Linked DNA regions of Homo sapiens: all the other regions are linked to region 3. The links come from fine-mapping of genetic effects on gene expression. A gene starts in region 3. Each other region holds a variant in brackets. All regions are shown on one strand. Distances are from middle to middle.

Region 1 (8,206 bases), 23 kb after region 3:
TAGTTGCTGCTTCCTGCTTGAATGGATAGAAGCTGCGGACAGTTGTGCAAAAATGTTTCAGACTTTATATATTATTTACAAAGTGTTCTAGCTTTGTAAATTCTTATATCTCTCTTTTTAGAAATTGGCTAAACTTCTGCTCTGTGGCACCGAGTTGGTGACAAATATCCAGGTGGCTATAGATATCAGAGAGATTCACAGGAGAGTCGAAGAAGAGGAGATAAAGCGTCAAAGGTAAGGACTGTGCTACTCTGCAGCTGGTGGACATGAAGGTAATCTCCATGGGTCCGGCAGTTCTCCCGAATTGTTGGAGGGTGACTTTGTCCACCTTAGACAATTCCCTTCCTGCCCTTATAACTTCTCCCTCCCTCCCTCCTCTTCTTTCTCTCTCTTTTTTTTTTTTTTTTTTTTGAGACAGAGTTTCGCTCTTGTTGCCCAGGCTGGAGTGCAATGACGTGATCTCGGCTCACCGCAACCTCCACCTCCCAGGTTCAAGTGATTCTCCTGCCTCAGCCTCCTGAGTAGCTGGGATTACAGGCATGCGCCACCAAGCCAGGCTAATTTTGTATTTTTAGTAGAGACGGGGTTTCACCATGTTGGCCAGGCTGGTCTCGAACTACTGACCTCACGTGATCCACCCGCCTTGGCCTCCCAAAGTGTTGGAATTACAGGCGTGAGCCACCGCGCCCGGCTATCTCATCTCTTTTCTTTCCTCCCCTCCTCAAGCACTACATTGCTGATACGTGCCAAGCTGTGTGTATACAAAAGGAGTGAAACACGGCCTCTGTTTGTGGTATTCACAGTCTAGTCAAGAGACACATGGAAACACCCATAATTCGTGGTAAAATAGATAATGTGTAAAGGGTTGTAGTAACACACACAAGGAGGCCTTTAATTCTATCTGCAGAGATTACAGAAAACTTCCCAGGCAAGGTGACGTTGAGCTGGGCTGTGAGGGATGAATAGGAATTTGAGGAATTGAAGAGTAGGCATTTTAGGCAGAGGGAACACTTGAGCAGAGGTGTGAGATCACATGATGTGCTTGGGAATGGCATGATAGCGAAGGATGTATGCGGGTAATGGAAGAAAAGAGAAGAGGCTAAGAAGGTCAACTGGGCAGTCCTGGGTTTCAATTGGTGAGAATGACCAGACCCACGAATACCTCAGTGTTATGTGTAAAGGTGGCAGCATTATTAAAGAATATTGAGGGCTCCATGCATAGAAGGATGGAGGTTCACAGGGATCACAAGAACCTGCGTCAAGTCCTCAGCTCCAGTCCTCAGGAGGCAGGCTGCCCTGCACGCCCATGTCCCAGGTCTCAGGCTGTCCAGCAGGGAGGCATAAGCGGCTTAGAAGAATTAAACTTCTTTGGTTTGCACACAGAAGTAGACTGATAGCAGGTCCTCATTTAAGCTTTGGATTGTTCTTCAATTAATTTCTTAAACAATTAGAAGAACAACCACTTGGCCAGGCACGGGGTGGCCCACGCATGTAATCCCAGCACTTTGGGAGGCCGAGGAAGGCGGATTGCTTGAGGTCAGGAGTTCAAGACCAGCTTGGCCAACATGGTGAAACTCCGTCTCTACTAAGAACACAAAAAATTAGCTGGGTGTGGTGGCGCGTGCACACCTGTAGTCCCAGTACTCAGGAGGCCGAGGCAGGAGGATCACTTGAGCCCAGGAGGTGGACGTTGTAGTGAGCCAAGAGTGTGCCACTGGACTCCAGCCTAGGCAATGGGAGTGAAACCTAGTCTTTAAAAAAAAAAAAAAAAAAGGCAACCACTTGACCATTTTGTCTCATCATATACACACAGGGGTCGATTTTAACAATATTTTTAGTTGTTCAGCATAAGCAGTTCCCTCTTTAGCAACTTTAGCAGCCCTACCAGTAAACGTGGGTGACTTTTATTCTCGAAACTTCCCACTGCCTGTATGGGCTGTGCCAGGAATGGAGTCGGCAGATTCCCAGCAGGGTCAGCTTGTGAAAGGCAGGGAAGGTCATGCAAGGAGTTAGGCCTTGTCCTCTAGCCACAGAGGAATGCTGAAGGTCCCAGGTGGCAGGTTACAAGGTCAGTGTGCTGCGGAAAGATGACCTGACAGCTCTTTCTCATTTCTTGAAATAAAAAAGTCAATTAAATTAAAAAAGTGTCCTAGCTTGGAAGGTGGGGTGGGTGGGGGATGGGACAGGAAGAGGGGATTGCAGGATGTTTAAGCTGTGACTTCGGTTCCTCAGGGGGTTTGTTTGGAGGTGCTCTCATAGGATTAGTCTGTTACAAGGAGCAGAGAGTCTCTGGCAGATATCTTAGCCACTGTTCCCAGAGGGGCCCCAGCTCAGCTCTCCTGCCTTCCTGCCACCTCGCCCCAGCCTCGGTGTGCTCTATCACGGAGGTTCTTTGGAATTTATGGAAAGGCTGTCCCTATTTTCCATCACTCATTGGTGGAGTTTCCATATTTGTACATTCCACTAGTCATTTATTGGTAACTTGGGAGAGGAGTAGCCAGACACTTGAGGTCATGTTGCTAATATAAAATTGATAATTTAAGCACCATGTGTTAAGTGACTCCCATGCTGAGCACCTGTGCTGTGTGCAGCATCTTATTTCATCCTGACAACAGCCAGCCACTTGAAGGTAGATACTTTTCATCCACGCCATTTTACAGAAGAGAAAAGTGAGGCTTGAGGGAGTTATGCAACTTGTCCGAAAGGTTGACAGTCAGTTAGGAGCCAAGTCAGGACTTGAACATAAGCTCTGTGACTCCAGAGACCCAGTGTTTAACTGTTGTGTGTTATCATCTTACTCAGAAGCAGGTGACCAATCGATCTTGGTGTGTGTGCGTGTGCACGCGTGTGTATGTGTGTGTGTGTGTAGCCTTAATGTTGATCTGTTTTTGCTATGTGTCATTTTCTTTACTTGGCCTAAGTTATTTACAGTCAAGCGTTAAACGAAAAGATTTCTCAGCATTGAGTTTGATTTTGGGCGGGTGTGTTTGGGCAGTGCCTAGTACCTGGGTCTTATATTCTAGAGATTCTAGAGAACGTACCTGCTCTACTGGAAGGCAGCATCTGGAGCTGGGTTGGCATGGCTGGCATGTATGTATTTGCAGGATTGAGAAGCTGGAGAATGAAGTTAAGACCAGCCAGGACAAATTCGATGAAATCACCTCAAAGTGGGAAGAGGGCAAGCAGAAGAGAATTCCCCAAGAGCTGTGGGAAATGCTCAATACCCAACAGCTGCACTGTGCTGGACTCTTAGAAGATAAGAATAAACTCATCAGCGAGTTACAGCAGGCAAGAGGCCC[G/A]GGCCCTCCAGCCCAGCCACAGGGGATCTGCCTGGGATTTAGCTGGGTTACTGGTTTGCTTTTCCTGAATGGAAAAATGTAGAAACCTTTTACTTCATTATTTAGAATGCTGTACAAGTCATGTTATAAACTTTTTTCCATGATGGTAAGAAACACATAGCATTAAATTTGCCATCATAACCATTTTAAAGTGTATAGTTCATGGGCTGGATGAGGTGGTTCACTCCCATAATCCCAGCATTCTGGGAGGCCGAGGCAGGCGGATAACTTGAGGTCAGGAGTTTGAGACCAGCCTGGCCAACATGGTGAAACCCCATCTCTACTAAAAATATAAAAATTAGCCGGGCATGGTGGCACATACCTGTAATCTCAGCTACTCAGGAGGCTGAGGCAGGAGGGTCGCCTTAACATGGGAGACAAAGGTTGCAGTGAGCCGAGATCGCACCACTGCACTCCAGCCTGGGTGACAGAGGGAGTGAGACTCTGTCTCAAAACAAAAACCAAAAAACTGTATAGTTCAGTCATGTTAAGTATACAGCATTCAGATGCAATAGATCTCTAAGAACTTTTTCATCTTGCAGCATGGAAATTCTATGCCCCTTAGACACCAATTCCCTCTTCCACTTCCCCCTAGACCTTGGTAATCACCTTTCTACTTTCTGTTTCTGTGATTTTGACTACTCTATTAGATACTTCCTGTGAGTGAAATCATACAGCATTTGTCCTTTTGTGACTAGCATATTTGGCTTAGTATAGATGGACTTCGTTGTAGCACGTGACAGGACTGCCTTCCTTTTTAAGGCTGCGTAGTATTTCATTGCATATATATACCACATCTTGTTTTATACATTCTCCTGTGAATGGACATTTGGGTTGGATTTCACGTTTTGGCTTTTGTGAGTAATGCTGCTATGAACATGGGTATACACGTATCTCTTTGAGATACTTCTTTGAATTATTTGGATGTATACTTAAAAGCAGGATGGCTGGGTCATATGGTAATTCTATTTTTAATTTTCTTAGGAACCTCCATACTGTTTTTTATAATGATTGCACCATTTTACATTCCCACCAACAGTACACAAGGGTTCTAACTTCTCTGTATTCTCACTAACACTTACATCCTGTTTTTTTGATAGCTTCCGTGTTGATGGTGTGAGGCGATATCTCATTATGGTTTGGATTTGCATTTCCGTAACGATTAGAGATGTTGTGCATGTTTTTCATGTGTTTATTGGTCACTTGTATATCATCTTTGGAGAAATGTCTATTTAAATCCTTTGCTTATTTTTAAATTGGGTTGTTTTTGAGTTATAGAAGTTCTTTATGTATTTTGGACATTAACCCCTTATCAGATATATGATTTTCAATTATGATTTCCTATTCCGTATATTGCCTTCTTAGTCTTGATTTTTTTTTTGATGTGCAAACATTTTTGAGTTTGGTGCAGCCCCGTTTGTCTATTTTTGATTTTGCTGCCTGGGATTTTGGTGTGATATCCAAGAAATTATGGCCAAATCCAATGTGCAGAAAGCTTGTCCTCTATATTTTCTTCTAGGAGTTTAATAGTTTTAGGTCTTTAATCGATTTTGAGTTATTTTTGTATATGGTATAAGGTAAGGACCCAACTTCATTCTTTTGCCTGTGAATATCCAGTTTTCTCAACATCATTTGTTGAAGAGACTATCCTTTCTCCACTGTATAGTCTTGTCAAAAGTCATTTGACCATAGATGCAGGGGTTTATGTATCATTCATTTATCATTTTGACCCTTGTCAAAGCCATTTGGTCATATATGTAGGGGTTTATTTCTGGGCTCTCTAGTTCCCTTGGTCTATATATCTATTTTTATGTCAGTACAACATTCTTTAATTCCTGTTGCTCTTTGCAGTTTTGTTTTTGTTTATTTTTTTTTTTTTTGAGACTGAGTCTTGCTCTGTCGCCCAGGCTGGAGTGCAGTGGTTTGATCTCGGCTCACTGCAACCTCCGTCTCTAGGGTTAGAGCAATTCTTCTGCCTCAGCCTCCCGAGAAGCTGAGACTACAGGCATGCACCACCATGCCTGGCTAATTTTTGCATTTTTAGTAGAGATGGAGTTTCACAATTTTGGCCAGGCTAGTCTCGAACTCCTGACCTCAGGTGACCCACCTACCTCAGCCTCCCAAAATGCTGGGATTACAGATAGGAGCCACTGCGCCCAGCCTGTAGTATGTTTTGAAACCAGGAAATGTGGGGCCTCCAACTTTGTTCTTTTCTCAAGACTATTTTGGCAATTTGGAGTCTCTTGAGATTCTGAATTTTACAAATTTTAGGATGGTTTTCCTATTTCCACAAAAAATGATGTTGGGATTTTGTTAAGGACTGCACTGAATCTATAGATCACTTTGTATAGTATGGACATTTTTAACAATATTGAGTCATCCAGTTCATAAGCACAGGATATCTTCCATTTGTTTATATCTTCTCTGATTTCTTTTAGTAATGTTTTACAGTTTTCAGTGTACAAGGCTTTTGCCTACTTTGTTAAGTTTATTCCTAAGTATTTCATTCTTTTTGGTGCTATAGTAAATGGATTATTTTCTTAATTTCTATTTTGGATTGGTCATTATTTGCATATAAGAATGCAACTGATTTAAAATTTTTTAAACATTTAATTTAATTTAATTTTTTTGAGACAGAGTCTCGCTCTGTCACCCAGGCTGGAGTGCAGTAGACTGATCTTGGCTCACTGCAACCTCCACCTCCTGGGCTCAAGTGATCCTCCTGCCTCAGCCTCCCAAGTAGCTGGGATTAAAGCGCACATCACCATGCCCAGCTAATTTTTGTGTTTTTAGTAGAGATGGGATTTCACCACGTTGCCAAGTCTGGTCTCAAACTCCTGACCTCAAATTACCCACCCACCTCCACCTTCCAAAGTGTTGGGATTACAGTTGTGAGCCACCGCACCTGAGCTTTTTTTTTAAATTTAAAATTAAAAAATTTTATGGGTAGGTGTATATATTTATGGGGTATATAAGATATTTTGATACAGCCATACAATGTGTGATAATCACATTGGGGTAAATGGGGTATCCATCACTTCAAGCATGTATCATTTCTTTGTGTTGCAAACATTCCAGTTATACTCTTTTAGTTATTTTAAAATGTACAATAAATCTAGCTGACCTTAGTCACGCTGTTATGCTGTCAAATACTAGATCTTATTCATTCTAACTATATTTTTGTGCCTATTAACCATCCCCATTCCTCCCTGACCCTCCACACTACCCTTCTCAGTCTCTGCTAACTATCATTCTACTTTCTATCTCCACGAGTTCAATTGTTTTAATTTTTAGCTCCCACAAATGAGTGAGAACATGCAAAGTTTGAATTTTTGTGCCTGGCTTATTTCATTTAACGTAATGCCTTTCAATTCCATCCACGTCGTTGCAAATGACAGGATCTCATTCTCTTTTATGGCTGAATAGTACTCCCTTGTGTATAGGTACCACATTTGCTTTATCCATTCATCTGCTGATGGACACTTAGGTTGATTCCAATTCTTGGCTATTGTGAATAGTGTGATTTTTGAATTTTGATTTTGTGTCCTGCAACTTTGCTGAATTTAAGTTCTAACAGGTTTTCCTGTGTGTGAAATCTTTAGTTTTTCTGCATATAAGATCATGTCATCTGTGAACAAAGATAATTTTAACTCTTCCAATTTTGATGTCTTTTCAAGGGATAAACTTTTAACTAGAAGTAAAAGCTTTGTCATAATTGTAGAATTATTAGCTATCTAATAGAAATACAGTCATGCATCACTTAATGATGGGGATATATTCTGAGAAATGCATTGTTAGGTGATTTCATTGTTGTGAGAACATCATAACATGTGCTTACACAAACCTAGATGGTATAACCTACTACACACCTAGGGTATATGATATAACTAATTGCTCCTAGGCTACAAACCTGTCCGGAATGCTACTGTACTGAATACTGTAAGCAGTTGTAACGCAGTGCTAAGTATTTGTGTATCTAAACAGAAAAGGCACAGTAAAAATACCATATTATGGCCGGGCACGGTGGCTCACGCCTGTAATCCCAGCACTTTGGGAGGCCGAGGCAGGTGGATCACGAGGTCAGGATATCGAGACCATCCTGGCTAACACGGTGAAACCCTGTCTCTACTAAAAATACAAAAAATTAGCCAGGCATAGTGATGGGCGCCTGTAGTCCCAGCTACCCGGGAGGCTGGGGCAGGAAAATGGCGTGAACCCGGGAGGTGGAGCTTGCAGTGGGCCGAGATCGAGCCACTACACTCCAGCCTGGGCAACAGAGCAAGACTCTGTCTCAAAAAAAAAAAATACCGTATTATAATCCTATGGGACCACTGTCGTATATGTGGTCCATCATGGACTGAAATGTTGCTATGCAGCACATGACCGTAGTATTTTTACAGCAAATGCTGTTCCAGAGTTTAGTCCTTAGTTAAGGAATGCAACTTAGTCTGCAGTAGATATGTTCTCGTGTTGGAACCTGGACATTAATTGCTCAGCTAGGACACTCTAGGCTTTCTGGGAGCTTGCAGGGAGATTTGCAGCAGGTGATAACATTGAGGGGTTTGGTCCTGGGTGCTTGTTAAGAGCTTTGCCCTGAGCAGAGTCCATTCCACTCCATCTACTATGCTTTATCTCAGGCCTTCTAAGACTCTTCTGAAACCACTTTCTCTTTGTACAGATGATTATTATTATTATTATTATTATTATTATTATTATTATTATTATTATTGAGACAGGATCTTGCTCCATCTCCCAGGCTGGTGTGCAGTGGTGCAATCATGGCTCACTGTAGCCTTGACCTTCTGGGCTCAAGCGATCCTCCCACCTCAGCCTCCCAAGTAGCTGGGACCACAGGCGTGCACCACCAC
Region 2 (8,202 bases), 44 kb after region 3:
TTTCATTGCCATTTTCCTTTCCTGCTCACCACCACCCAGCATTTCACAATTTGACATATCTGTTTGTGCTGCTCTAACAGACTACCTGAGACTGGATAATTTACAAAGGCAAAAGTTTATTTCTCACAGTTCTGGAGTCTGGGAAGGCCAAGATCAAGGCTGGCAGGTTTAGTTTCTAGTGAGGGCTGCATCTTTCAGAGGGGAGGGATGCTGTGTCCTCACACAGTAGAAGAGCGGGAGAGCAAGCTGGCCTAAGGCTTTGGGAGGCCTCTTTTATAAAGGCCTTAATCCCATAATCCCATTCATGATGGAGGAGGCCTTATGGCCTCATTACCTCTTAAAGGTCCTGCCTCTTAATATTATCACATTGACAACACTGAATTTTGGAGGAGTTACATTCAAGCCGTAGCAACCTATGACCCCAGGATTGGACAAAAACTTCCCACAGTAGGATACTGATGATGCCCTTCTAGCCAAGCGCAGTGGCTTCTCCTCAGGCCTCATCTATTATGATTGGATACTGGATTTTCTTCTTTGGTTTAAATGACCCTAAAATATTTGCTCTTCTTTCTTAATGTATTTGTTTCCTTTGGTGGTTCTGCTTTTCCTTGCTTGATATGTCTTGAGTATCTAGATAAGACAATCTAGAAAATCCAGGCCTTACCATTGCTTTTAATTTTTATTTCATCTGCCACATACCTCAGTCTCATGGTTTTGAATATCCCCTTTTTGTTGATGACTGCCAACCTCATATCCCCAATCCTGAGCTCACCTTTCATTTACCTGGAACTGCCAACGTAACAGTTCAGCTTGGAGAGGCCCTGTCATTTCCAGGGCACAGTTTCTGAAACCAGACTTGCCTCTGCTCCCTGTTTCCAGTTCTCCAGCCTCACTCCCCTGCATCTCTAGCTTCCAGGCACTAAGAACTCTGGACTTTTTTTGTTGAGCTTCCTCTTGCAGCCATTCTTCCCTGTTCACTTCCTCGCCTGCTATCTTGCCCAGACCTTCAGTATGCACCTGGAGTTTGTTTTGTTAGCTTCGGTAATTAGATGACACATAGGAACTCCTTTACTGCATGACATTGGGAAAAAACACTTTGGAATGACTACTTATTTTTACATCTGTGCTTGGAAAGCCTCCTTGAAGGCTGTAGTTAAGGAAATGGGTTAGCTGTTTCTTTCTATCAGAGACTAAGGTAACGACTTTTTTTGCATTTTCTTGATGATGAAAATATGAATGATGAATGTTTGCATTTGAGAGACATTTTGATCATTTCAGAATAATGCTTAGGAGAGGGAAAATCTTATTTTTAGAATTTCTAAACTTAAAATATGTTGGCCTTCAGCTTCTCTGTTACTGTGTGAATGGGGCACTGATAAGAGCCACCTCTGTAGTAGTTTGAAGTCTGAAGTATGGGCCTGGGTCTAAACATTGCGCCTGCCATGCATATTTTATGGGCCGAGTTTCCATGCACAGAGCTCCTGTTAGCAGTGAGATGGTGAGCTGTGCCGTGCCTGGATTCACAGTGCTATTGGACAGGTTTTAACTGCCTCTTGCTATTCTGGAAATTTTGGACCACCCCCTCCCCTGCAAGCCTGGGTAAGTTAGATGCCTCACCTCTGGGCTCCCCTGGCACCCTGCATAAAACTCTCCTATAGCACTTTCCACGCTGTACTGTAATTAACGTTTGTCTTTGTTTTTGACTAGACTGATAGTACCTTGTATTGAAACGTATCTTTGTATTCATCTTTGTCTTTCAACATATCCTTGCGCAAAAGTGGCATTTCATGTTTGTTTAATGAATACGTGGATGAGTGAATAAATGAATGAATGAATGAGTTACTGGACCTGTTAACGGTATCAGCTCTTTGAGGCTGGAAGATTTATGTATCATAGGCTTTTGTGATATGCATTTTTTTTCTTTAAAATTTTCTTGCTTCATGATTGAATTAAACATCCAAGTCATGACAATGAAATCGTTGAGATAGATTATTTAAATATGTGAGGCTGGCCCTAGGTATGGGTATGGGCATTCTGACAAATGATGTATTGTGAAGTAGGTTCTGTCCACAGTCTTGAGTAGGAGGCTGCCTCTTGGTGGGAATGGGCTCTGGATTGTTTTCAATGCGTTTCGTTTTGGACTGTCCCAAGATCTCCTGTTGCCTTCCTTTTGTTGATCAAAATGGGATCTGTGTTTTGGAATATATGGGAGGGTTTTCTGCTCTTCCACAGATCTGCTCCTGGGTTTGTGGTAGAGCTGAATCAGGTGGATGAGAGGAACATACATAATACCTTCTATTCAGCTGCAGACTAACCTTTTTCTCCTTCAACCAGCCTGCATGATATACTTAACAATCTGAGATCAAAATATGCCAAGCAAATAAAGCAGTTTCAGGAGGAGAACCAGTCTCTAACCTCGGACTACAAACGTCTTGTGATGCAATTCAAGGAGCTACAGAAAGCCATGAGGTATCTTAAGGACTTGGTCCTAAGGCACTTGTCCTAGCATAGAGGTGACGGGGATGGAGTTTGTACAAGCTGTGATTTCGTTGGACTTGATGTCACCAGCTATTCTGGGGCTGGACCAGGCACTAGTTAACCTTTTGTGGTGTGTTCCCCTGGCCCTTCACTTGCGTGTCACCTGCCTTTTCTTGAGATGTGTTGGGATGGCTTCCAGTTTATCGTAAGTGGGAATCAGCCGCCCAGGGATGGGGCCAGGCCCAGGAATTAGCACAGCTCCTTTTCATATTCCTGCCCTGCTGCTATTTGAGGGGACCCTGGCCAGGTCCTGGGGCCAGCTGGCCATGCTCTGTGACTCTCCTTCACAGGCATTTTGCTCTTATTGATGATGAGAAGTTTTGGGAGATTTGGCTGATGAATGAAGAGGAGGCGAAGGACCTAATAGCCAGAGCCTTTGATGTGGACAGGATCATCCACACCCATCATCTGGGGCTTCCCTGGGCAGCACCTGATTTCTGGTTCCTGAACAATGTTGGGCCTATTTCTCAGCAGCCCCAGAAGTCCGCCACACAGATAGTAGAAGAAATGCTTATGCGCTCAGGTGACTAGAACACTGTCATAGAGCCTTAGAGCTGGAGGAGCCCCCTGAGAACATCGGGTCAAGCCAGTCACGTTAGAGATAGTCTAGGGAGGAGGGGGAAGAGTATGATTATTGGTATCGCTTTTAAGTCTCCTCTAATTTATAGCTTTGCTCTCTCTCCTGTATTATAAACTGGCAGTTAGGTCTAGAAGCTTGATCAGATGCAGGTCCAATTTATTTTTGCTAAGTACACTATTGTGTAGTACCTCCATCGGGATAAACTAATGTTAAATTGTCTCCCTTTTTGTGATGTTAGCAACCATTGCTAATCATTGTCTAAGATCCATTAACTGTATTAGGGATTGCAAAATGGTGATATGTTAGATTCTGTTCTTGTGTCTTTATTTAACAGAATACTTCTTAAAAGAAAATCTTCCCTTCCTCAGCAATTTGCTACCCTGAGATAGTCTGTATATGAAAAGCAGGATAGATGCTTATTTTTTCTCTGTTTACCAGTTTTCAAAATAATGGGTTGGGCCTCTAGCATCTTCCAAAGGTACCAATGAGTTTTTAAAAAATATTATGAATGCATGAGTTTAAACAAATTTGATGTATTTTAGTTTACTAAAGTAATTATCCTTATTGAGGCTCAAATTGTTCCATCTTTGGCTAGTGGAAATCTTCATATTGGCTTCTGGGTCCTTTTGATTCAGCCCTAGTAGTTATTTATTTATTTATTTATTTATTTTTGAGACAGAGTCTCGCTCTGTTGCCAGGCTGGATTGCAGTGGCGCGATCTGGGCTCACTGCAACCTCCGCCTCCCGGGTTCAAGCAATTCCCCTGCCTCAGCCTCCCGAGGAGCTGGGACTACAGGTGCGCACTGCCACACCTGGCTAATTTTGTTTATTTTTAGTAGAGACAGGGTTTCACCATATTGGCCAGGATGGTCTCCATCTCCTGAGCCCGTGATCCCCCCAACTCAGCCTCCCAAAA[G/T]GCTGGAATTACAAGTGTGAGCCACCACGCTTGGCTAGCCCTAGTAGTTTTTTTTAACAGCGTCCTGGCTCTCCAGGATGACCAGGTGTTCAAGGCACACATTATACTTTTCCTGCCTCTTGTCTGGAATCAGCCATTTCTCCAAGGATCCCCTGGTCCTTTCAAATAGGGAATTTTTTTTTTTTTTTTTTTTTTGAGATGGTCTCACTCTGTCGCCCAGGCTGGAGGGCAGTGGTGGGATCTCGGCTCACTGCAACCTCTGCCGCCAAGGCTTCAGCAATCCTCCCACCTCTGCCTCCCGAGTAGCTGGGACCAAAGACTCATGCCACAATGCCCAGCTAATTTTTGTATTTTTTTGTAGAGACATGGATTTGCCATGTTGCCCAGGCTGGTCTCAAATCCTGGGCTCAAGCGATTCCTTCCCAGAGTGCTGGGATTACAGGCTTGTGTCACCATGCATGCCCAGGGAATGGTATTTAGAAACCACGCTGTGGGCGCTGGGTGCTTATTGTTTTGGATTGGCCATTGTTTCTAGGCCTTTTCAGTGGACAGAGCTGAGAGTATAGGATTTCTTTTTTTTGGTAATAAAATAAATCATGAGTTCATTCTAATACCTCCTCATCAACAGGATGCCAGGATTTTTATTTAACAGTATCAAAGTGTATCCCCTTTCTTCCAACTTTAAAATCTTAGTGCTCAGTGACTTCAAAATAATGAATCACATGCCTTCCCCACAGCACCACAGAACTGCCTCAGAGGAAAATATCAGCCCTGCCACCAACAAATGATTACTAAAGACAGTTTACACTGTTTTATGGTTCCTTTTATTCTTAAAATGTGTCCCTCCAGGGATGTACAGACAGATTGCTATATTTTAAAGTCACCTGGAGCCAGGTGCGATGGCTCACCCCTGTAATCCCAGCACTTTGGGAGGCCAAGGCGCGCAGATCACCTGAGGTCAGGAATTCGAGACCAGCCTGGCCAACATGGCGAAAACCTGTCTCTACTAAAAATACAAAAAATTAGCCGGTCATGGCGTGCGCCTGTAATCCCAGCTACTCAGGAGGCTGAGGCAGGAGAATCGCTTGAACCCGGGAGGTGGAGGTTGTAGTGAGCCAAGATTGCACCACTGCACTCCAGGATGAGCAACAGAGTGAGCCTCTTTCTCAAAAAAATAAAAAATAATAAAAATTAAAAAAAAAATAAAAATAGGCCGGGTGCGGTGGCTCATGCCTGTCATCCCAGCACTTTGGGAGGCCAAGATGGGCGGATCATGAGGTCAGGAGTTTGAGACCAGCCTGACCAACATGGTGAAACCCTGTCTCTACTAAAAATACAAAAATTAGCCGGGCATGGTGGCGCGCGGCTGTAATTCCAGCTACTCAGGAGGCTGAGGCAGGAGAATCACTTGAACCCGGGAGGTGGAGGTTGCAGTCAGCCGAGATTATGCCACTGCACTGCAGCCTGGGTGACAGAGCGAGACTCTGTCTCAATAAATAAACAAATAAATAAAAATAAATGCACTTGGAATAGTTTCTGTGTGGTTATATCACCAGCTTGATACACATATAGGTATTTTTGTTTCGTTTTGCTTTTGATTATTAGGGAATGGTTTTTTACAATTTAATTATGTTTTTTGTTCGTTTGTTTTATTTTTGTCTTTTTGAGACAGTCTCACTCTGTTGCCCAGGCTGGAGTGCAGTGGTGCAGTCTTGGCTCACTGCAACCTCCACCTCCTGGGTTCAAGCGATTCTCCTGCCTCAGCCTCCTGAGTAGCTGGGATTACAGGTGCGTGCCACCATGCCCAGCTAATTTTTGTATTTTTAGTAGAGACGGGGTTTTGCCATGTTGGCCAGGCTGGTCTCAAACTCCTGACCTCAAGTGATCCACCTGCCTCAGCCTCCCAAAGTGCTGGGATTACAGGCATGAGCCACCACGCCTGGCCTAAGAAGTTAATTTTAATTAAGAAAATTTTTGGCTCTTGCTGTCAGCTGTCAGTTCTTGCTGTTAATATTTCTCTGGACCAGGCGCCGTGGCTCATGCCTGTAATCTCAGCACTTTGGGAGGCCGAGGCAGGCAGATCACTTGAGTTCAGGAGTTCGAGACCAGCCTGGCCAATGTGGCAAAACCCCATCTCTACGAAAAACACAGAAATTAGCCAGGTGTCGCGGTGGGTGTCTGTAATCCCAGCTACTTGGGAGGCTGAGGGAGGAGAATCACTTGAACCCAGGAGGCGGAGGTTGCAGTGAGCTGAGATCACACCACTGCACTCCAGCCTGGGTGACAGAGCAAGACTCCATCTCAAAAAAAAAAAAAAAAAATTATCTGTGAATGTGCAAAGCCACCTGCCCCTGCTTTGAGTTGGCTGCTTCTGTCTAATCTGTTGCAGGTTTAGAGACTATATAGCCACTTGCTAGATCATCTCTGAAATAAGAATAAATGGGCTCACACTCTCCCTCCCACTTCCTGGTTCATGGCTGGATTTTGAGTATGATGTTTCCAGGTAGACGCAATTTGGAAAAGTAGGGCATTACAGGCTGGCTGGGAATGGCCGAGTTCTCCAGGTAGTCTCTGATTCCGACCCCCTAGCCCGCCTTCCCGCCACGTAATAGGCTTTTTTCATCATAAAGAGACTGAGAGAATGCCTCACAGAGGCTTTTTAAGAGGTACATTTTCTCAAGGAAAGCCATCTGACTGTTTCTCAGAGTCAACTAGCTCCAGAAATTATCTTCTTTTTCTTTCTCTCTCCTCCCCATGACCCAACTGCAGAAGAGGAGGAGGCAGAAGAGGCCGCCGCGGAACCAGAGTCCTACCTGGATTTGCCGAAGCAAATTTCTGAAAAAACTACCAAGAGGATCCTGATGCTCCTGTGTGACGAGTCGGTGAGGCCAGGCGGGGGCTGCAGCAGAGGGACTCACGGGGGTGTGCAGGTTCTGAGGCCTCTGCTGGGCCAGTGCTAGCCTGGAGTCAGGAGTGGGCCAGTCCTCCCCTGGCCAAGCCCAGGGTTGGGCCCTGAGGAGCAGAGTCAGGATGGCCCCTGGACTTCAGGGCCGGTTCATAGAGGCCTTGCCTCTGAGCTGGCCCAGCTGGAAAATGGGTCTAACCTTGGTTGGCCAGCATGGCATAGTTTAGGCCAGCTGGAGGGCTCCTGCCAGCTTAAAATGATGCTGCTTCTGAGACAGAAGTTGCACCAGCTCACCTCCATGAACCAACTTGCTAAGTGATGTGGCCACACTGACATGGCCCTTCTCAGGGGCTTGTTTTGGGGGTGACTCTGGCTATGTTGGGATTTGGATGTCTGCATTGTATGTTAGCAAACATGATTAGCCTTAGAATAAAAGCTGCATTGAGCTGGTTCAGCTGGAGGTTGGGTTGTGGTCAAACATGGGCAGTGTTTGTTTGGATCTTACGGTTCTGAAGTGGGTATTCTTTTAGGATAGTGAGGGCAGTTGCCTTTGGCTGGCTCTTGCCACTGAGGGCAGCTGCTGCTGAAGGGGTCAGGTGGCAGGTTCTGCCCTCTGAACCTGCAGCTGGATGCAGAGGCCACCTCCCCATGGAGCTCTCCCCCAGGCATCCCAGCTCAGAGCGGGCACCGCATCTGCTCAGCCGCCCTCTCCCTTCCACCGCATGTGTGCTGTGTTTTGGTTTGGGGTGCCCACTGCTTTCCATGCCTCCCTGTCCTGCTGCTGTGTTCTGTAGATATTTGGGGACAAGACTATGGGTGAAGCAGGAGCCTGTGACTGGGTCAGCTTTGGACTGTGGTGGGGGCCTCAGGAGTTTGCCTAGTGGCTTGTGGGTGAGGTGGGTTGGTGCCCTTCTGGGTGGGAAAAGCTAAGTCTGTGGTGAGGATGGGCTTTGTCCCTGGCCTTGCTTGTCTCTGGCCTTGCTCCCTGGGGAGGGGGGCGTTCATGGGCACCCCAAGAAGGCTTTGCTGGGGCCCACTGCTGGCTCCCATCCCTGGGCGTCTGCTCCGTGGCATGGTCCCTGGAGTGTTACACAGGGGGCAGCTGCAGACCCTGGGACTCGCTCCTGAAACCTGTCCCCGACAGGAGATGCCTTCTTCCTTCTCCCCAGGGGTTCCTCATAGAGAGCAAGCTGCTGAGCCTTCTCCTGCCCCTGGAGCAGAATGAATGCTATCTGCTGAGGCTGGATGCCATCTTCTCCGTGA
Region 3 (8,206 bases):
AGTCAGTCCTACATATCAAGGGACTTCCCAGTCAGAGTTTGATCCTCTTTGTGACCAGCACATCTCTGTGGGCTGATCTACACGAAAGGCACGAAAATGCACACTGCCCTGTGTGATGGTTGTACTTGCTTGCTAAAAGAAATTCTATGTTTTTCTTTTGTGAGCTTGTTAGTATGAGCCAGCCAGGCTTTTGTATGAGCTTTTTTTTTTTTTTTTTTTTTTTTTTTTTTTTTTTGTGAGATGGAGTCTTGCTGTGTCACCCAGGCTAGAGCGCAATCTCTGCTCACTGCAACCTCTGCCTCCCGGGTTCAAGCGATTCTCCTGCCTCAGCCTCCTGAGTAGCTGGAGTTACAGGCATGCACCACCACACCCAGCTAATTTTTGTGTTTTTAGTAGAGATGGGGTTTCACCATGTTGGTCAGGCTGGTCTCGAACTTGACCTCGTGATCCACCCACCTTGGCCTCCCAAAGTGCTGGGATTATAGACATGAGCCACCGTGCCCGGCCTGTATGAGCTTATTAGTATGAACCAGCATTGCCTACCAGTTGAGGACCACACTCTAGATGCTGGTCAGTCATCAAGGTGAATGGACATCACCTGCCTCCCTTCCCCAAGTCCCTCTCATCTATAACAGCCCTACTTGCCTGCCTCACTCTCTTGGGGGTCTCCTGTTATTTCTCTTACAAAAACATGAATAAATAAGCTTTATGTTTTATTGAGTCAAAAGGGATTTATCCTCATTGTAAACATTTTTTTTTAATCTTCAGGGAATCTGAAAATCACCCATAAGCCCACCCCTGAGGGATATTGACTACTTTGTGGTATTCCCCCTGTTTTTCTTGTGTACTACTGTCTACATTTCAAATCAAACTCGGCTTAGGCTCTATATTGTGCTGCCTGCCTCTTCCCTTTCTCATGTAATGTATCTTGGATGTCTTTCTAGGTCACCTTTATTCTTGTGTTAGAGAATCCCATGATTCTTTTATCGGTTCCCCTATTGATGGATTTTGTCATATCTAGTTTTTTAATATTACAAGTAACTGGAATGGACATACAGATACATCTATATACGTTTCTTTCAAAAAAAGTTTGTTGAGCACTTACTACATATCAAATATTGTGCTAGGTGCTATGTATAAAATACCGAATAAAACTGATATAGTTGTGACCCCAATGAGCTATAGCTAGATCCATGATCTCCTTGTGATGATCTTTAAACTAGAATTGCCTAGTGAATGGATATGCTAATTTATTTTTGTGTGTATACAAATAAATATGTTTTTATCTAGTTTTTTCAGTTTTTAACAATTTTCTAAATTTAACTCACTTATGAACTATTTACAAAGGCATGGAAAATTAAGCATGCATTTTCCCATTTATATTTAATCATAATTCATTACATGTCTTCTGACTTTCTTGTTTAGTGGTTTTTCTTTGTCTCTTTGTTTCATTCCTTTGACCTCTACAACCACAGTTGTCTGCCCCATGAAAATATTTCTTCCTCTCTCTGTCCTTTGTTCAGTTTAAAAAATTTTTAGTATTTAAAAAAATTCGGCAGGCCGGGCGGAGTGGCTCATGCCTGTAATCCTGGCACTTTGGGAGGCCGAGGCGGGTGGATCGCCTGAGGTCAGGAGTCTGAGATCACCCTGGCCAACATGGTAAAACCCTGTCTCTACTAAAAATACAATAAACATTAGCTGGGCATGGTGGCACACGCCTGTAGTCCCAGCTACTTGGGAAGTTGAGGAAGGAGGATCGCTCGAACCCAGGAGGTAGAGGTTGCAGTGAGCCAAGACTATGCCACTGCACTCCAGCCTGGGCAATTGAGCAAGACGCTGTCTCAAAAAAAAAAAAAAAAAAAAAAAGGAAATAATAGTTATATATGTTTATGGGGTACATAGTAATATTTCAATCCATATAATGTATAGTGATCAGGTCTGGTAATTAGCATGCCTATCAGCTCAAACATTTGTCATTTCTTTGTGTTGGGAATGCTCAATATCCTCGTTGCTATTTGAAACTATGTTATTGACTATAGTCACCCTCCAGTGGTGCAGAACACTAGAACCTGTCATTTTGTATCCTTTAACAAATCTCTCCCTATTCCACCCTTTACCCTAGTATGCCAATTTAAACAGTTAATAGATTTTGGCAAACTGTCCTCCTAGGAGGTCCCTTTCCAGCGGTGAGTGAAAGTGTTTCCCACACCAGTGAAAAAGGTTTATTACATAATTGAGGCTGCCTGTGGGAGCAAAGAGGGCCTCCCAGCTGGTCAGAAAATGGCTAGAGAGAGCCAGGAAAGGAGACAAGCTTGGGGCTTTTATTGTGGTTAAGGGGTGAGGCTGGGAGGAGGGTATCCTGTGCACGCAGATGAAATCTGCCAGCACCAAAAAGAGCACCTAGGCTTTTTTTAACAGCTTGCCCAGATGTGGAGAAGAAAGAGGGAGTGCTGCGTAAAAGCTGCCAGCAGCCAAATGTCAGCAGCAAAAAATGGAGTCAGATTTCTTATATAAAAAGATGTTGGAAGTGGTATCAGAACAGTGCAGGGCCAAGTATCTCACTGGTCACTCTTCATGGGTTTGTATGGTACCTTTGCTCTCACTTACCTCTTGTGCAACAGCTGATTCCCCCTGACTTTCTCATGGTATCCCACTCCCAGGCATAGACATGCGCATGCACACATGCTTGTTTCTGTCCTTACGGATAGTGGAAACATGAACCAGGACCTGGACGAGTTTTTGGTCAGAGCTGTATCATGGCTCCTAGGAGAGTTTAATACTTTAGGTTTCAACCAAAGGAGACAGAGATCTGGCAGAAGGCCCTGAAGCCTAGAAGCAAGTACCCCCGCTCCTACCACCACCACCTAGGCAGGTGTGAGACAAGGATCCAGGCAGCTGCTGTTAGACTCTATAGCTGTTGGATGGTTTTGGCATTCCTAAACCTCTCTACTGCTTGCAAACGTGGAAGAACTGATTTTAAAAACCCACTCCATTTGCCTCTGGGCAGTTCTTACTCACAAAGGACGGGTCGTCTTGGCCGCACAGTTGTCTGTGGGTTGCATCATTTAACAGCTGAGAAAATGCTCCTCAAGAAGTTGTGACTTGCCCAAGGTGGCAGGGCAGGGCTAGGACTAGTACTCACCCTTTCTCACTGCTCATCCAGTGCCCTTAATTCCCCACGGGCTAATGGGACAGAACCCTGTTAAATGGTATCCAGTTTTTGTTTGGTTGGTTGGTTGGGTTTTTTTGAGACAGAGTCTTGCTCTATTGCTCAGGATGGAGTGCAGTGGCTCGATCTCGGCTCACTGCAACATCCACCTCCCAGATTCAAGCGATTCTCCTGCCTCAGCTTCCCGAGTAGCTGGGATTATGGGTGCCCACCACCATACCCAGCTAATTTTTGTATTTTTAGTAGAGACGGGGTTTCATCATGTTCACCAGGCTGGTCTCAAACTCCTGACCTCAAGTGATCTGTCCACCTCGGCCTCCCAAAGTGTTGGGAGGCTGAGGCATGAGCCAGCGCGCCAGGTTTTAATTCTCAATGAGAACACTATTTTTGTTGACAATGAGACGCCCAGAAGATAGCGCCTTTCTGGGGACAGTTGAGAATTTAATAGTGCTTCCGCATTTCTAACTTTTATCCCTCCCCCCTCCCACGGACTGTTTTCCTCTATTCCACTTTTCCTCTTTCATAAGTATTTGATTGCAGGTTGGTATCCTGTATCCAAGCACAGCGCTTGGCATCGAGTAGGCGCTCAATTTTATTTGGTGAATATGAGTTGGAGGAATATTTGATGAATGAATGGAAGATGAATTAATCATCAGGGTCAGCAAGTGATGAACCACAACTTGGTCCAGTTCTTTAGTCCTCTAGTCTCCTGGTGAGACTCCACAGCTCCGCTAACACGACCGGGCCTTCGTGGGCCTGACAACAGACCTGACATCCCACGGGCGGGAGAGGCGTCAGCCCGAGGCTGGGATGCTCGGCCGGAACGGCGGCTGGCGGCAGGCTGGGCCCAGGGAGCTGCGCGCGCAACCACTCGGGCTGTGGCTCCGGTGACCGCTCTCCCTGGCAACGGTTTGTTCCTAGCAACCAGCCTGAGGTCTGGAGGTGGTGCGGAGGGAGCCGCCTAGGGACCAGGGACTCCTGCCATGAATCCGCCGGGGTCCCTAGAGGCCCTGGACCCGAACGTGGACGAGCACTTGTCCACCCAGATTCTCGCGCCCTCGGTCCACTCCGACAACTCTCAGGAGCGCATCCAGGCCCGGCGCCTCCGCATCGCTGCGCGCTTAGAAGCCCGGAGGCGGTGAGCGCGGGGGCGGGCGGGGCGGGATCCGCGCCGCAGGAGCCGGAGAAGGGCTGGTTTCCTGATGAAATAGAAACATTTCTTCGGGAAGGTTCAGGCAGAGTATGGGAAAGTAAAACGCTGGGCCGGTGCCGTGGCGCGCGCCTGTCATCCCAGCACTTAGGGAGGCCGAGGCGGGCCGATCACTGGAGCCCAGGAGTTGGAGATGGTCAACCTGGGCAGCATAGAGAGACCCCATCTCTATAAAACATCAAACAATTAATCGGGCGTGGTGGCGTTCGACTGTGGTCTGCACATGGCATCTTTTCCACTACGGACACCTCCAAACCACAGGGTCTGCTGGATCATGTGGCCCAAGTAGCCTGGCTGCTTACACTGTGGCCTGGGTCCTTTCTTGTTCCAGGCACCACTCAAAGCTGGCAGCTTTTTGTGTCAGCCTGAATAATATTCCTAAGTGCGGGATGTATTGTCTCTAGGACCCAAAGTGGCCTAAGAGGCATTGAGTTTCCTTCTCTGTAGAGGATGCAAAATGCAGTAGATTTGTTTTTTACTTGATAGGCTATCCCAGCATCCCACTGACCACTGGACCCCTACAAACTTGAATGACATGGCAGTCCCTGGGCCTTCATAGGGTTGATTGCCCACCGTCTGGAGCACACATGTCTTACCAAGCCCTGCAGTGTGTTTCCATCACTCGCTCACCCTGGCTGATTGCTGCGGGGCCATCAGTGGAATGCAGGGGCCGGCAAACCCTTTCAGTAAAGGGCCAAATAGTAAATATTTTAGGCTTTTCGGATCATATGGCCTCTTTCCTAGCTGCTCAATTGCCATTGTATTGCAAAAGCAGCCACAGGCAAGACATAAACAAATGGGCATGACTGTGTTCCAATAAAGCTTTATTTATGGACACTGAAATTTGAATTTCATATACTGTTCATGTATCACAAAATAGCCTTCTTTTGATAAAAAATAATAATAAACTTTATTTTTTAGAGCAGTTTTTAGGACCACAGCAAAACTGATCAAAAAGTATAGCATTCGCATATACTCCCTGCCCCCACACATGCACAGCTACTGTCAACATCCTGCACTGGAGGGCACATTTGTAACAATATATGAACCTTGGCGCATCGTTATCACTTGAACTCCATTGTTTACCTTAGGGTTTCTTTTTGGTGTTGTACATCCTATGGGTTTGGATAAATTTATGGTGACACGAGCCCACCAGTATAGTATTATACCAAATATTTTTACTGCCCTAAAAATCCCCTGTGCTCTGCTTATTCATCCTAGTCTTTTTTTAACCATTTATTTATTAACCATTTAGAATTGTAAAAATCATTTAAAATTGTAAAAACCATTTAAAATTGTAAAAAATCGTAGCTCATGCCTGTAATCCCAGCACTTTGGGAGGCCAAGGCAGGAGGATCACCTGAGGTCAGGAGTTCAAGACCAGCCTGGCCAACATGGCGAAACCCTGTCTGTACTAAAAATACAAAAATTAGCCAGGTGTGGTGGCAGGCACCTGTAATCTCAGCTACTTGGGAGGCTGAGGCAGGAGAATTGCTCGAACCTGGGAGGCAGAGGTTGCAGTGAGCTGAGATAGCGCCACTGCACTCCAGCCTGGGTGACAAGCACAAAACTCCATCTCAAAAAAAAAAAAAAAAAAAATTGGGCCGGGCGCAGTGGCTCATGCCTGTAATCCCAAAACTTTGGGAGGCTGAGGCGGGCGGGATCACGAGGTCAGGAGTTTGAGACCAGCCTGACCGACATGGTGAAACCCTGTCTCTATTAAAAATACAAAAATTAGCCAGGCATGGTGGCGCGCGCCTGTAATCCCAGCTACTCAGGAGACTGAGGCAGGAGAATCGCTTGAACCCAGGAGGCGGAGGTTGCAGTGAGCTGAGATCGTGCCATTGCACTCCAGCCTGGGCGACAGAGCGAGACTCTGTCTCAAAAAAAAAAAATTGTAAAAATCATTATTTGCCTGGAAGCCATACAAAAACAGGTGGTGGACTGGATCTGTCCCACAGGCCATAGTTTGCCAGTGCTGAAGTAATGGATCATTGTGATGTTCTCTGGGATATCCAGATGTCCCTGATATATTCAGAATATATTATGACAGAGATCAGGAGAACTACCATGGTCCTGTGAGTGTGACCGACTTGTGAGTGTATATCATTGTCTGTTCCATGTAAATGTGAACTTCCTGATTATTTTTCCTGATTGAGGTAGAAAAGCATGCATTTGGCCCAATCAGTAGCCACACATACTGTGCCTGAGGCTGTACAAATTTGCTCTAGTGAAGCTTACCACACTTGCATAGATGCTGTGTTCAGGAGTGCTACCTGTGGAGCTTCTGGTAGTTGACAGTCACTTTCTAGGATCCAGTTTCTGCAGGTGCCAGACCCATGAATTAAAAGGAGATTCAATAGGGATCACCATTCCTGCATCGTTGAGATACTTCAGGGTGGCACTAATCCCCACCAACACCCCTGGGTGGCAATATTTTTTTTTGTGTACTGAGGTGCAGTTTCAGAGATGTCCTTTTGGCCTTCCCCACTATGGTAGCTCTATTTATAGGCCAAGGAGTGGAGTTTTTCAAACTTCTAAGTATGTAGGTCCCAATTATACTTTTGGCCATTAGAGACATGATTGCTGGCTGAGTCCACAGACTTGGCAGACCCTCTGTAAGTAGGACTTTGCCTCCCCTGTGTCCTCACTCTAAGTGGGTGGGAGCATGCTTTGGGTCTCTGGGTGTCAATGGTAACTCAGACCCTGTTCTAATCCTAAACATTTCTGGGTATCCTCTTTCCTTATTGTGCAGCCCTCCTGAGTAGATGACCCTAGGCCCCTTTGGGGAAGAACTGGGGGAATCATTACAATATATATTTGCCGTTGTGTTCCAGATCCTTCCTTGTGGGGACCCTGCTGCCTCTTCAGTCAATAGATTCTGGCTCTGAACACTGGCTTAGGTTCAGGAATTGGGCAAGGGAGCATGAATCTTTACCAGCGTGCACCCTTAGCCTATTTATCCTTTGCTGCTTTCTTTGGTGAGCACCTATGAGTTGTATTCTTGTTGGCTGCCCTTTCGTTTTGCACCAAATGATGCCATATTTTGTAAGCCATCTTTAAAACTCTCTGTGGATCAAGCCCTTGTCTGCTACTCTGACCTTGGCAGTTGTGCTGGGGATTCTATGATAAACAAGGCAAATATAATCTCTGTTCTCAGGAAGCTTATATTCTAATGAGGGAGATGGGAAAAAATAAAGTGCAACTAAACAAGTAAACAAATAACATAATTATACATTTTGAAAAGAATCCTAACGGAAACAAGCAATGAGCAAATATGAAGAATAATAGATGTGGCACCTGAAGGTAGGTGGTCAGTGAGGGTGAGAAAGAGCTGTCAATGTAAAGAGTTGTACTGGGCATTCAATTATATTAAGGAACTTTTTGGCTATGATAATGGTATGGTGGTCTTGTTTTTTTTTTTTAAAGGCTATATCTTTTTTTTTTTTTTTTTTTTTTTTGAGGCCGAGTCTCACTCTGTCTATGCAGGCAGGAATGCAGTGGCGCAGTCTTGGCTTACTGCAATCTCCACCTCCCAGGTTCAAGTGATTCTCCTGGCTCAGCCTCCCGAGTAACTGGGATTACAGGCAGCTGCCACCACACCCAGCTAATTTTTTATTTTTAGGAGAGACGGGGTTTCACCATGTTGGCCAGGCTAGTCTCGAACTCCTGGCCTCAGGCAATCCACCTGCCTCAGCCTCCCAAAGTGCTGGGATTACAGGCGTGAGCCACTGCGCCCTGCCTCTATTCTTTATTAGTGGTTGGGGCCGCGCATTGTGCGTAAGTGAGCTGGGACCATTCTGTACCATTTCAATGTGCTCTCAAAA
Region 4 (8,206 bases), 54 kb after region 3:
TTGTAACCTCCATTGAGGACAGTTTGGCAGTATCAATTACAAAACTATATACATTTTACTCTGAAATTCTTCTTCTTTTTTTTGAGACAGAGTCTCACTCTGTTGCCCAGGCTGGAGTGCAGTGGCACGATCTCGGCTCACTACAACCTCCATCTCCCAGGTTCAAGCCATTCTCCTGCCTCAGCCTCCTGAGTAGCTGGGATTGATTACAGGCACCTGCCACCACGCCCGGCTAATTTTTGTATTTTTAGTAGAGATGTGGTTTCACCATGTTGGCCAGGCTGCTCTCGAACTCCTGACCTCAAATGATCTGCCCACCTTGGCCTCTGAAATTCTTCTTCTAGGATTTTATTCTCTAAATATATCTCATTACAGTTGAAATGGTGTATTTATTGTAGCTGATTCACTGTACATTGTTTGAAATGGCAGAAGATTCGAAACAACCTATATGTCCATTGTTGAGGAATCTATTTAATAATATATGGTATGTCTACACGATGGGGTACTATAAAACTGTGGGAAAAAACCAAAGTTCTTTATGTATTCACATGAAAAGGTACCTAAGGTTTATTGGTAAGTGTAAAAGCAAACTACAGAACTCTATTTGTAGTATAGTATCATTGATGTCAAAACGAGAAGGAGGAGTATATATGGAAAGGTATGCGCATGTATTTATATATAAACATTATATAGACATACTATTTCCTTGGAAGGAACCATAGGAAACTTGATAGCATTCGTTTGCCTGTGGGAGGTCAATTGCATGAACTGCAAAATAGGAGTAGGAGGAAGACCTTTTAAATTTAACAATTAAAGCAAAAATTTAATCTGTATTATGATTCAAAAGAAGATTTCTAACATGTAAGCTTTATGAATGTCAGTAAGGTGAGCACCTAGGAGCCCGGATTTAGAAACAGAACCTTTCCATTTTCTCGTAGCCTCCTAGTGCCTCTCCCCATCCCATCCCCCTTCTTCCCACTCTTTCTCCTGTTTCTGTCCCTGTGTAAATGTCTCCCTGGGCAAGCTGTCACTTTCTGTAAACTTTTCTGGTTTTTCTTCTTCCTGCCTCTCTCTCCATGCTCATGCTCGTGTGTCCCCAGCCCACAGTTGTCCGTGCATCTTTCTCCAGATCAAGCCCTGCAGTCAGGCGAGCATGGAGAAGGCGAGCATGGAGGAGACAAGCACGAGGTCAGAATTGGAGCTGGCAGAGCAGACGGAGATGGAGGGAGAAAAGGAAGAAAGCCTGGTGGAAGGGGAGAAGGAGGAAGAGGAGGAGACCCCACCCTCCCCCTGGGTCATCCACCCCAATGATGTCCTCAAGATTCTGGAGGCCTTCGTCATGGGTCTGAAGAAGCCTAGGTGGGCTGCGGGGCTGGAAGGCTTGCCTGAGACCAGAACCAGGGGAGCTGGATGGGCTGGGGAGCCAGGCAGAGCCAGTGAGTGGAGAAGAGTCTGCTGGGCAAGATGCGGGGACTAAGGACAGGGCTATCTGAAGGCGGGCTGGGGCAACCAATCGCTGGACAGTCAGGAAAGCAATAGGGCATAGTGGTGATCTGTGCTTTTTTCACTCATCATTCATTCAGCAGACATGCACTGAAGGCTGCCATGTGTAAGCACTGTGGGGGCACTGCCTTGTGATCAGAGTAATGGTCAAAGCACATTCAAGGTGCACCATTGTTCAGAGGAGGAAGTGGCCGTTTCCATTTGGCATGTCAGAGGGTTTTGGGAGGAAATGGCACTGGAACTAGGTGTTCCCAGGCAGATAAAATGGAGGTAAGGGCATTTCAGGAAATGACAGCATGGGGAAGGTCTGGTCTGTTCAAGAATCATCACAGGAGGTCTGGCTGGAGTGTCAAGGGCCTGGGAGGTGGCACTGGTGGGTGGGGAGCTAGCCAGGTCTTGGAGAGCCTTGCCCAATGTGCCCAAGATCTTTGTCTTTACCCGTTGGTGGGTGGGAGCCAGAAAAGGATTTGAAGCAGCCGAAGAGCCATGATTAGCCTTGCGTTTTAGAGAGATCATTGTGGCGTCAGGGAAGGGGCGAAGCTGGATACAGGGAAAGCATCAGGAGGCTTGTCCAGGTGGGAGGTGAGGATCCCCCAGATTAAGGCTGTCATGAGGGGATGGAGAGGACATGACTGAATTCAAGTGCTGTTTTGGATGTGTTGGTGCAAGAGATGGGCACAGTGATGAGCTGTAAAGCCAGTGAGGTAAACTGATTGGGAGAGAGAGGGGTGGATGAAGCACGGATTATGCCCTCACGAAGGTACCGGTGGTACCGAGGCAGGAACGTTGACAATAAGCATGCGTCCTTTCTGAGAACCTGCCACCGTCTAATAAACTTGGACTGCTGAGTGGGAAGGTGACAGGTGGGAAAGCAGTAGGCCTGTGACTGGCACTGCCTGGGGGCCTGGGTAGTACCCAATGGACATGACAATCACTGTGCTCTTGGCCTTCAGGGACTCGCGGGCCCCGCTGAGGGTACAGAAGAATGTGCGTGACAACTCCAAGGACTCGGAGTACTGGCAGGCCCTGACCACAGTGATCCCTTCCTCCAAGCAGAACCTCTGGGATGCCCTCTACACAGCCTTGGAGAAGTACCAGTAAGTGTGCATGTCATGGAGCAGGAGGGTGCTGGCGGGCAGGTGAGGAACGGTTGTTGGGAGCAGCCGCGTTTGCTGCCTCCCTGTCCCACTGAACCTGGGAGGGAAGAGCTGCCCTTGGCATCTCCTGTGTGGGTGGATCATGTGGGGCAGTTGGCTCTTGGGCCCTGGCCTGCCTGTTCTGTTCCTGCTAACCTGGCTCACCTGGCGGCTGGGTGAAGAGTGTAGCTTCTGGAGTCTCCCTCCACCTGTAGCCAAAGTACAACCACCAAGACCCTGGCCCCTACTTGGCAGAGGATGGAGGATTCAGTGAGCCTCTAACCGATTTTTCTGTCCAAAGCCTTGTCCTGACCCAGAGGGCCAAGCTGCTGCTGGAAAACAGTTCTCTGGAGCAGCAGAACACAGAGCTGCAGGCGCTACTGCAGCAGTATCTGAACTCCAAGGTGGGCGGCGGGGCCTTCCAAGGAGGGGCAGCGGGAGACACGGGTGGGGCAGGGGCACTGGAGCTGGGATTAGGGAACGAGGAGTCCCCTCCCCGTCAGAGGCAAGGGAGCTTTGTGATATGATGTAAAAAATCAAGAGTGGCACCTTGAGACAACTACTGGCCAAAGGAGTAGATCTTGCCTGAAGTCTCCTCCAGGACAGCTCAGGTGTGACAGTGTCTCTTTGATACTGTGGTTTCTGGTGCCAGTGGCCAGCTGGGACTGCTCTGTGTGAAGCAGTGCCACAGCCAGGAGCAGCTCCCCAGCTACAGAGCCTCCAGCTGTGCTCTCTTCTTCCATCCTCACACCCGCTGTGTGAGGTGGACAGGGCGGAAACAATGCTCCTCATTTCACACAAAGGACAATCACAACTTGCAGAGTTTGCAACTCGTCCAGAGCCTGGGCTCTTTCCACCCACCAGCCCCGGTTCCCTGCCTGGGATATGACTGGAGGGTCATCCTCGCATGGGGAAGGAGGCTCTGCTGGGGCAGATATTCCCTGGCCCCCATCTGTGCCCAACCCTGCAATAGTTGTGGACAACTTCCCCATGGCCTGGCAAGAGGAGGAAGGAAAAAGTCCATTGCTGACATTTCCTGCTCTGCGGGTGTGGGCACCTGCAGCTGGGGCTGTAGGCCAGGAAGGTCGTGACGCAGCTGTTAGTTGCACACGTGTGAGGTGACTGAGGCCAGCTCCAAGTCCAGCCACAGGGGCTGCGTGGCCCCAGCACAGTCCCAGGTCCCAGGCCACAGCTGAAAGTGGGATGTTGTAGTGAACCTTGGCCTCATAATGACCCTTGGCCTGTGACAGGACCCAGACATTCTGGACGGTATGGTTCCCGCTTCCACAGATGCTACTGTATACAAGAGGCTGGGGGAGGAAGAGGTGGGGCAGGCTAGATTGGGGATGGCATGGGTGCGTGGAGAGAGGAGAGGGGAAGACTGCAGAGAATGGACGGGCGGGAGATGAAGAACGCTACCAGAGGTCACAGCTGGAGCAGAAGCTGAGCAAGAAGGCTCAGGCGTGTCTCCTGCAGGGAGGCAGTCTGTGGGTGTTCAGCATCTCTCAGCTTTGGAGAGGAGATGCGTGCAGGGCTTTGGAGGCCCATGGGAGAGCCAGCGTGGCTCGCAAGGGTGGCAAAGAAGGAGGGCCCTGGGAAAAATGTAACGACTTTCACCCTTTCTTTTCCAGATCAACTCTGAACTGCAAGTTCCTCCCACTCAG[G/A]TGTTGCGGGTACCCACAAAATGAGCTGGACCGCCAAAGGCTGATGTGTTAGGGCTGGCCTGATGCTGGTGTCTGTGCCGGAGCCAGCTCATATCACCCACTGGGCCGCACCTGGGCCTGCTCTCTGGATTTTCCAGGGCTGTCTTTATAGCCTGTCGAAATAAGGAGCCAGAGGAGTTACCTGTGTCCTGCATTATGATTAAAGCCTTTTAAAGTTGTGGCTGAATCTCTTTAAAGAGGTCAGGTCTAGCAAGACCAGGCCCTTGCCCCTACCTCTGTGTCATGAGGGGACTTTGCCCCAGGCTCAGATAGTGGTGTGAGTCAGAGGCCGAGGCCAGTAGCGTGGGGCTCCTTTCTTGCTTTCAGGGGAACTGGTTTCTGTGGGTGGAGGCTAGAGCTTTTGGGCCCTTGTGGGGCCTTAAGCCTTCAGACTGGCCCCAGACCTGAAGGATTCTTTCGGTGCTTTGGGGGCCCCTGGGCCCAGGCTGGTGTGCCCTTTGGGCTATGGTGTAAGACTCCTCCTGTGGGCAGCCTGGGTGGGCAGCCCTGTGCCTGAGGCCTGCCTTGAACCCTGGGCCACCAGAGGCCACTTGAAGGGGAAAGGCCATGGGAGCCCTGCTGGTACTGAATCTGCCAGCCTAGAGAACTGCTGCCTCTGCCCCGCACCTGCGGCTGCTCCTCTCAGCTTGACCAGTGCAGACCTGTCAGCTCAGTGCTTGACTTCTTTTATTTAGAGAAAAATCACCACTCAAGAAAAGAAAAACAGCCAACAGAAACCCAGACACAGGCAGGGGCAGCACTTGACGGGCCAGCTCCCAGCTGCAGCTGAAAGGGCTGGAAGGGCAAGGGGGCAGGGGTGGGAGGACAGGGTGTGCCCGGGATGGGGAGTCCCCTCTGCTGCTTCTCACAGCTCCTCAGCTGGGCCTGGAGGCGCTGGCTGGGGCAGAGGGAGCTCTGGGAAGCCATGGAAACCCACAGGCAGGACAGGCGACCCCCTGGGAAGTGAGAGGAGCCAAGTGGAGCCCAGCAGTGGCAGAAGCAGCCGCGCTGGGACTTGTGGGCAGGGTCTGGCCCCTGCTGCGGATCAAAGACCGGTGCTATCTGCAGGGGTCACGGCGGGGATACCTTTTGCTCGTTCATTCTTTTTAAAGCCCTGGGCACTGACCCATGGTCCTTGGTTAATTTCACTAAAGCTTCAATCCTGTACTTGGAAGACCTGGGGAGGGTTTCAGGAGTCTTCCTCTGGAGCCTGGGCCTGAAGAAGGGTGGCGCCTCAGCCAGGTGGGGCAAGAGAGACCCATTCCAGGTCCCCACCCCATCCAAGGCTCCCCAGCCCACAGGCAGGGGTCAGAGGGGCGGGACTGGGCAAGCCGCAGCCTGGGGCAGTGAGGACAGGCGGCCCCCGCAAGCAGGAGGCAGGCTCGGCCCAAGGCATGAAGAGTGGACGCTGGGCTCCTCAGGCTCCCCAGGGGAGATGGGAAAGAGTCCAAGCCACTGAAAGGAAATGCGGCAGGGCTGGGGAGCGGCTGGCGGGAGCTGGCGGCCTTCATGCCCCAAGGAGCTTTTTGACCATGTAGCCAGGGAGGCTGTAGAGGAAGAGCCCCAACATGAGCAGCCCCAACAGCGCCAGCACGATCTTGATGATGAGCCACTTGTACCGGGTGCAGATGAGGTACTTGATGGACTTGAGAGGGTTGAGGAACCAGACGAAGGCCGTGTCGGGCCGGCTGGGAAGTGGAAGAGAGGAGCCGGTCAGCCAGTGGGCAGGAGCTGCCTCCCAGTGCACCCCATCCTCTGTCCTTCTGGACCCCCAAAAGCCCTGCCATGGCCCCAGCCCCAAAAGCAGTGAATGCTGGAGCCAGGGTTTAAACCCATTTCTAAGTACCCGACTTGCTGCTTACAAAACTCTATCCTCCCTGCAGCACCTTTGGGGCCCGAATCTCCTCCTAAGGCCTAGATGGGAGCTACTTGCAGCATGGGGCAGCCTTGGCCCTGCAGGCAGTTCTCATCGTTAGGAAGCTCCTGCGGTTAGCTCGTTCTATGTGCTGCCCCACGTCCTTGGTAAGACTGGTGCTTCACAACCTCTTCCTTTCTGATGGACATAAATGGCTGTTCCCACCGGGCCCTGCTGAGGGTCTGAGCAGCCCCTGTGGGGTGCAAGCTGCCCTCACCGACCTGCCCACTCTCAGGATGAAGACCCACTCCACCTTCTGTAGAGCCTCCCAGCCGAGAAGCACCTGGCCAGCCTCACTATCTGTCGTTTGTGTTATAAAAACAATAGGTTTTGTAAAATGTCAAGATACAAGTGAAAGTACTGCATATGCATTTTCAAACTACTGCCTCCCAGAGGACATGGCGTGCAGCCCCAGAGCTGAGCTCAGTATTGGTGGGGACACAGAGCCGGGGCTTGGGTGCAGGGCACCTGGTTTTGAATGGTTTTCACAGGCAAGTGAGGCACCTCTATCAACCTCGGTTTCTTCATGTATAAAATGGGGTTACAAGCAGTACCTACCTCCTGGGTTTGGCGCAATGGCACAGTGAGCCAGTGCCTGGGGAGCTCTGAGCACCTGCAGTTGGGTGTTCAGGCCATGGTGGCTATGAAATGTTTGAGTTGAATGGAATTATTATCCTGAAGGGCAGAAAACAACAGCCCTGGACTGGGAGGTCACACACGGGTGAGAGCCATTTCCAGACCTGTTGGCTAACCCTGGCCACACCCTTCCCTTTTCCCTGTCCATAGCTCAGCTTCTTTCTGCCAATGAAATTGGGTTAGAGTCGGCTGGGCGCGGTGGCTCACGCCTGTAATCCCAGCACTTTGGGAGGCCGAGATGGGCGGATCACGAGGTCAGGAGATCGAGACCATCCTGGCTAACACAGTGAAACCCCGTCTCTACTAAAAATACAAAAAATTATCCAGGCGTGGTGGCGGGTGCCTGTAGTCCCAGCTACTCAGGAGGCTGAGGCAGGAGAATGGCGTGAACCCGGGAGGCGGAGCTGGCAGTGAGCCAAGATTGTGCCACTGCACTCTAGCCTGGGCGACAGAGCGAGACTCTGTCTCCAAAAAAAAAAAAAAAAAAAAAAAATTGGGTTACAGTCTGGGAGAAACATGGCTGGGAGCAGAGGTGGTGTGCAAAGAACACAGGATTGGAAATTTGGAAACCTTGGCTTGAGTCCCGGCTCTACCCTAATTTGCTGGGTAACCTTGAGCAAGCTACTTCACCTCTTTGGCTTAATGTGGAAAAGTGTAAAATAGTCATTTCTAGTTCTGAGAGTCTATTCTGTCATGAAAGCTTGAAAGTTGCTGTGCATGTTTGTGTGGGCTTAAGTGTGTGCCTGTGTGTGCTTGAGTGCATGTGTATGCACTTGTGCGTGGCACATGTGTGCATACATGCTTGTGTGTGTTTGTGTGCACATGTATGCATATTTGTGTTTGTGGATGTGTGCGTGTATATGTGTGTGTGTGCACGCGCCTGCCTAGCCCTTGGTCCAGAGGAAGAAGTAAGAAATATCAGACCCAGGAGGCCACTGGGCTCAGGCCCCGAGGATTTTCTTGACCAGGTAGCCAGGCACAGAGTAGAGGAACAGGGCGAGGAGGAGGAGCAGCAGCAGGAGCAGCAACAGTTTGAGGAGCAGCCAGCGATACGTGTGCCACAAGAAGTAGCGAGCCGACTTGAGAGGGTTCAGGAACCAGATGAAGCTCGTGTCGGGCCGGCTGGAGTATGAAGGGTAGAGAGCGCAGAGGAGGGACAGGGAGGAGAAGGGATTGGGTGTGGCGAGGGGCCAAGACCAAGAGGGAAGCTGTCCTGGGCTGTGTGTGCAGTTCTAGGCACCCCTCTGGCCATCAAGGCTGGCCATGGCCCCAGAGGCCACCACTGGAGCTGGCTCTTCTGCAAAAGCTAGGAA

What was found. PIP is the estimated chance that this variant, and not a neighbour inherited with it, causes the effect.
Region 1: its variant is fine-mapped to the expression of DRC1 in testis (GTEx, PIP above 0.99).
Region 2: its variant is fine-mapped to the expression of DRC1 in nasal epithelium (TOPMed, PIP 0.98).
Region 4: its variant is fine-mapped to the expression of DRC1 in whole blood (TOPMed, PIP above 0.99).

What each region holds. Positions count from the first base shown.
Region 1 is chr2:26,421,167-26,429,372 of GRCh38, forward strand. DRC1 (dynein regulatory complex subunit 1) reads left to right here. Exons shown (of 17, transcript NM_145038.5): 3 at 122-234; 4 at 3,105-3,288. Among named protein-coding and RNA genes, the nearest start is that of DRC1, 23 kb to the left of the region's middle. The variant G/A (reference allele first, on the strand shown) is at 3,300.
Region 2 is chr2:26,441,888-26,450,089 of GRCh38, forward strand. It overlaps DRC1 (dynein regulatory complex subunit 1), which reads left to right. Exons shown (of 17, transcript NM_145038.5): 9 at 2,335-2,469; 10 at 2,829-3,061; 11 at 6,804-6,916; 12 at 8,109-8,198. Among named protein-coding and RNA genes, the nearest start is that of DRC1, 44 kb to the left of the region's middle. The variant G/T (reference allele first, on the strand shown) is at 4,035.
Region 3 is chr2:26,397,838-26,406,043 of GRCh38, forward strand. It overlaps DRC1 (dynein regulatory complex subunit 1), which reads left to right and starts at 4,083. Exons shown (of 17, transcript NM_145038.5): 1 at 4,083-4,307. The coding sequence starts at 4,153.
Region 4 is chr2:26,452,191-26,460,396 of GRCh38, forward strand. It overlaps DRC1 (dynein regulatory complex subunit 1), which reads left to right. Exons shown (of 17, transcript NM_145038.5): 14 at 1,130-1,359; 15 at 2,457-2,600; 16 at 2,941-3,043; 17 at 4,271-4,521. The coding sequence ends at 4,327. It overlaps OTOF (otoferlin), which reads right to left. Exons shown (of 47, transcript NM_194248.3): 46 at 7,818-8,015; 47 at 5,013-6,030. The coding sequence ends at 7,835. Among named protein-coding and RNA genes, the nearest start is that of DRC1, 54 kb to the left of the region's middle. RefSeq lists enhancers at 5,442-6,012, 6,013-6,582. The variant G/A (reference allele first, on the strand shown) is at 4,304.